Regions from separate parts of the Homo sapiens genome. Here region 1 is linked to region 2. The links come from fine-mapping of genetic effects on gene expression. Tissue or cell type: gastroesophageal junction. Region 2 holds a variant in brackets; the other region holds the start of a gene. All regions are shown on one strand. Distances are between the middles of the regions.

What was found. PIP is the estimated chance that this variant, and not a neighbour inherited with it, causes the effect.
Region 1: it holds the start of ZNF83, and the variant in region 2 is fine-mapped to the expression of ZNF83 in gastroesophageal junction (GTEx, PIP above 0.99).

The regions. Positions count from the first base shown.
Region 1 is chr19:52,637,173-52,639,794 of GRCh38, forward strand. ZNF83 (zinc finger protein 83) reads right to left here and starts at 1,183. Exons shown (of 3, transcript NM_018300.4): 1 at 1,140-1,183. It also overlaps the pseudogene LOC124904757. RefSeq lists enhancers at 111-629, 630-1,147, 901-1,020 and a silencer at 1,231-1,430.
Region 2 is chr19:53,191,974-53,194,730 of GRCh38, forward strand. It overlaps ZNF665 (zinc finger protein 665), which reads right to left and starts at 1,385. Exons shown (of 4, transcript NM_024733.5): 1 at 1,339-1,385. RefSeq lists an enhancer at 1,201-1,350. The variant T/A (reference allele first, on the strand shown) is at 1,496.

The DNA of each region.
Region 1 (2,622 bases), 550 kb before region 2:
TTCCTTCTCCCCAATCGTTCTATCGTCCTCAATCTTGATATATTTCCGCCTCTTCTCCCATCTCTGTGCATCCTCTGCTCTCCCTGTTAAATTCCGTCTTCCCTGTTATACCCCCTGTCCCCAATATGTGGAACCACAGATCCCCAGGTGTCCTCCCTGCTGTGGTTCTCCCTCTGTTCTCCTTGCCACCAGCACCACTCTGCTCTGTCTGCCCTGGCTCCAAATCCCTCCTCCTCTCCCTCACTCTGATGAGATTCCCTCTTTGCTGCCCCTCTCCCTACCTTGCTGTCCTTCATCTCTCTGTACATCTAGGTTTCTCTACGTTTCTCCAGTTACTTTTCTCCTCCTGCTTTCTTTTTTTTTCTTTTCACTTTTGCTGTCTCTTGACAAATCCATCACCCACCCTCTACTTTGCCCTCTGTTATGGGTCTTTCTCATTCTTTTCTCTGTCTCAGCTTTTCTACTGCTCTGTCTCCCAATGCCTTTGGCCGACACAATCACAGGAGGGTTTGGATAAGACGCCTGCATCCCGGAGGAGCTCGTTTTCCGGGGGCTGGAGCTGGGCAGGCAAGAACACCCCGTGTCACAGGACAGGCCCCGGGTACCTCCCCAACGCGGGTTCAGGGGAAGAGGTGACTGTGGAGGAGAGACCTGTGGAGCAGCAGGGCCCGCCACGAGGAGGGAGGTGGGGGGGAGACGGCGCCTTAAGACAAGGTTGGGGTCTGCAGGATTCCAGGACCAGGCAAAGTACGCGGCCTCCCTGGGACTGGGGCCCTGGCGCTGCGCTCCAGTGGCCTACGAAGGCGAGGGTGGGAGGCGCCCAGGGCGGGAATCCAGCTCTCGGGTGAGGACTTTAAAAAGCGAGGGGCGGGAGGAGTCAGAAAACAGTTTTGAGCAGGAAAACTACGCGACAGGAAGTGTATACATCGCCCTACAGCAGAAAGACCGGGGACAGCCCAGCCTCAGGGCGACTTTAAACCCAAAAGGAAGCGATATCCGGACTCTCATGGGGACGTCTCAATTTGTCCTGGGTGAAGGAAGAAGGGAGAGAATTTCCAGGTCTGTGGGGACCCCACGTCTCAGGTACAGCAGCGCCGGGGACCTGGTAAGCGCAGACTTAATAGAAGAGCGAAACTCACCGCCACGGTGTAACTTTCACTCCACATAATCCGCTTCCGGGTTTGCGCGCATGTGCGCGCGCAGTACAGAAGCCAGGTCTGGGCGGGGCCCGCGAGGTGGGCGGGGCCTGGATGAGGTAGGGGCGGGGTGGGAAGCCGAGAGACTTTCCCCTTTAGAACCAGCAGTGGGCGGGGCCAGGGCGGGACCTGTGAGTCTCTCAGCATCGTTCCCAGCGCAGAGGCATTTTTCGGGTTTTGGAGGCGAGACCGGCCAGGAAGGCTGAGGCATGATTCAAAAGCCCTGGAATTATCTGGAACGGGGATGCAAACTAGAATGTGAAATGCAAAGCCCTGCCTGGGCGGAAGGTACAATTTCATGCTGATAGCCCACAGAACCGAATAGAAATCCTCTCCCTTTCTATTCTCCATTCACTTGGGAGAGAGTCCACGCTGTGCTCAGCTTTAGAGACTCAGGCCACTGCCTGAGATGCAGGATGGAGTGCTCAGGCCAAGGATGGGTGAGGTCACCACCTGCGGCTTAAACACAGCTGGGATATGGGCGCGGGAGTGGGAGCCTGAGGTCCCAGCTATTCAGGAAGCAGCGGCGGGAGGATCGCCGAGCCTGGGAGTTCAGGCCAGCCTGGGCGACAAAGTAACACCCCCTCCCGCAGGGCTCCCTTCCTCGTCTCTCTCTCTCTTTTCTTTTTTATAATAAAATTTTTGATGATGTTACATAGGGATCCAACATTATTCTTTTCCACGTGGATATCCAGTTAGTTGTCCCAGCGTATTTGTGTAAGAGATCTATCAGTTTCTTTTTTTGTTTCTTGAGATGGAGTTTTGCTCTAGTTGACCAGGCTGGAGTGCAATGGCGCGATCTCTGTCTCCCAGGTTCAATCGATTCTCATGCCTCTATCTCCCAAGTAGCTGGGATCACAGGGATGTGCCACCATGCCCTGCTAATTTTGTATTTTTAGTAGAGATGGGATTTCTCCATGTTGGTCAGGTTGGTCTCAAATTTCCGACCTCAAGTAATCCGCCCGCCTCGGCCTCCCAAAGTGCTGGGATTACAGGTGTGAGCCACCGCGCCCGGCTTATTTTCTTTTATATATTTAGTTTTTTCTATTTTTTTTTTTTTTTTTTTTTGAGGCAGAGTTTTCTTTTTTGGCCAGGCTGGAATGCGGTGGCGAGATCTGGGCTCACTGCAGCCTCTGCCTCCTGGGTTGAACCGATTTTCCTGTCTCAGCCTCCGGAGTAGTTGACATTACAGACGCGCACAACCATGCCCGGCTAATTTTTGTATTTTCGATACAAACGAGGTTTCACTATATTGGCTAGGCTGGTCTCGAACTTCTGACTTCAAGTGATCTGACTGCCTCAGCCTCTGAAAGTGCTGGGATTATAGTCATAAGCCACACTTCCTGGCCCAAAAAATATTCATTTCTTTACTCTTTAAATTTTGAGAAAATATAATGGAAAACAAAAAAAATCTTCCCCCCAATGA
Region 2 (2,757 bases):
CCTCATTCTGTACATCTCTCTCATTCTCTTCTTCTCTCTCCTTGTTTCTTTTCTGTGTTTCAGCCTGGGTCTCTGCTCCTCATTTTGAGCCCCTCTCTTCTCCTGCTGTTTCTCCTTCCCTCTATCCTTCTCTTCCACTTGTTCTGTTCCATTCTTGCAACTTGTTTCACCTCTTATTCCTCTTTCACCCGTCTTTTGGTTGTCCCCAATCTCCATCTATTTCTGCCTCTTTCTTCCCTTATCTCTGCTCTCCCTGTTAAATCCCCTCTTCCCTGTTTCACTTCCTTGTCCCCACTCTTTGGCACCCCCAGATCCCAGGTCTCCCCCTGCTGTGGTTCTCCCTCTGCTCTCCTTGTCACCAGCTGCCCCTTCTTGCTGTCCCAGCACCACGCTGCTCTGTCTATCCTGGCTCCAAATACCCCCTCCTCTCCCTAACTCTCCGTCTGAGGAGCTGCCCCTCTCCCTACCTTGCTGTCCTTCATCTCTCTAGACAGCGAGCTTTTCTCTACATTTCTCCAGTTGTTTCTCCATCCTGTTACTTTCTCAGCGACTTCTTTCACCCTTACTGTCTCTTTGTAAATCCTGACCCATCCTCTACTTTGCCATGTTTACTGGTTTCCCTCATTCTTTCCTCTGTCTCCGTTTTTCTACTTTTCTCTCAGCCCCCCTCTCTGTCTCCTGATCCCCTTGGCCCACACATTCACAGGGAGGGTTTGGAGTAAGACACCTGGATCCTGGAGGAGCACATTTTCCAGCGGGTGGAGCTGGGCAGGCAAGAACACCGGGTATCACAGGACAAGGCCCGGGCACCTCCCCAACGCGGGCTCAGGGGAAACGGTGACTGCGAAGGGGAGGCCTAGGGAGCAGCAGGGCCCGGCACGAGGAGGAGGGAGGTGGGGGGCGACGGCGCCTTAGGAGAGGGGTGGGGTATGCAGGATCCCAGGACCAGGCAGAGGCGCGGCCTCCCCGGGACTGGGGCTGCGGCGCTAACGCTCCAGTAGCTGACTAGGGCGAGGTTAGGGGACGGTAAAATCCTGCACCCACTTCGCAGATGAGGACTTCACAGGGCGCAGGTCAGTAAAGGGTTTTAAGCAGGAAACGGCGCAGGAAAGGAGGTGTCTGCATGGTCTGAAGGCCGAAAGACCGCGGGCAGGACCAGCCTGTGTGATTTTAACCCAAAGCGATGCGACCCCCAGAGTCTCGCGGCAAAGTCTGAATTTACATGGAATGGAGGGAGCCGTGCGGGGACTTTAAGGGCTATACGAACCCCCGGACATCGGGTACGGAGGAGCAGGGGACTCCGAAACGCAGGTTTAATCTAGATAGAGGGAAACTCACGCGGCGACTAACAGCCTTCACTCCAAGAGATCTGCTTCCGGGTTTGCAAGAAACTGCCCGCGCAGTAGGCAAAGGGGCGGGTTGCGGTGGGGAAAGGCCAGGCGTTGGGAGGGACTGAGAGCATAGGGTGGGCGGGGCCGGGGCGGGGCCTGAACCC[T/A]GGAGGCGGAGGTTGCAATGAGCCGATATCGCGCCATTGCACTCCAGCCTGGGTGACAGAGTGAGACTTCGTCTCTCCCAAAAAAAAAAAAAAACAAAACTTAGGCTATCTAAAAGTTTAACCAATGGCCAGTAATATAAGCAATCATGCATATGTAATGAAGGCGCCATAACAACCCAAAAGGAGAGGATTCAGCGGAGCTTCTGGATAGGTGAACACTGGGAGGCTCCTGCAGCGTGGTGCACCCAGGGAGGGCACCAAGGCTCAACGCCCCTTCTCCCATGCCTCACCTCACTGATCCCTTCCATCTGGCTGTTCTTCTGTCAACTTTGTAATATCCTTTATAATACGTAAATCTATGTAAAGTGTTTCCCTGTATTTTGTGAGCCACTCTAGCAAATTCGTTGAACCTGAGGAGGGGGTCAAGGGACTCCTGGATTTATATCTGATCTGTAAGCACAAGTCACAACCTCTGCTTGAGACTGGCATTGAAATGTGTGCACTATTGTGGGACTGAGCCCTCAACGTGTGGGATCTGATGCCATGTCCCGGCAAAATGGAACGGAATGAGAGAACACGCACCTGGTGTCTGTGGCAGGATTGCTTGCTTGGTGTGTGTGGGAAAACCCAGTACCTCTGGGCTAACTGTAGCATTCTGTGTTGTGAGAGAACAGTAGAAGAAACTGAATCAGTGTTTCCTATATTCTTAAATACGAATATGTGAGGTTTGTTGTTGTTTTTTTTTTTTTTTTTTTTTTTTTAGACAAGAGTCTTGCTCTTGTCGCCCAGGCTGGAATGCAATGGCATGATCTCGGCTCACTGAGCCACCGCCCCAGCGTGAAGGCATTTTTGAGCAAGTTATGTCTCCCTAATTCTGTTTTATTGTACTTTTCCCTAAGTAGTTATAATAGCCTCTAAATCTGTGTGGAGTTTTCAGTTTTGTGGACAATACAATAAATAGACAAATAAAAACCCAAACACAAGCTGATCTCTATAGAAGTGTTAGATATTATTTTCAACACACTAAGTGATACTCCGTATCTAGATAAGCTAAAGCACGAATGATGTCTTCTGAGGTGACAAGGTCCACAGTGGCTTTACAGAAACACTGGCCAGAAGTAAAAACTGTGATGATAATGGCAATAGCAATGACTGACTTTTCTGAACACTATGTGCAAGGCATTATTCGGAATACTTTACCTGTATTAACTCAAATAACAACATAATAGCCCATGAGAAAAAGATCTTTTCCTATCTTACTA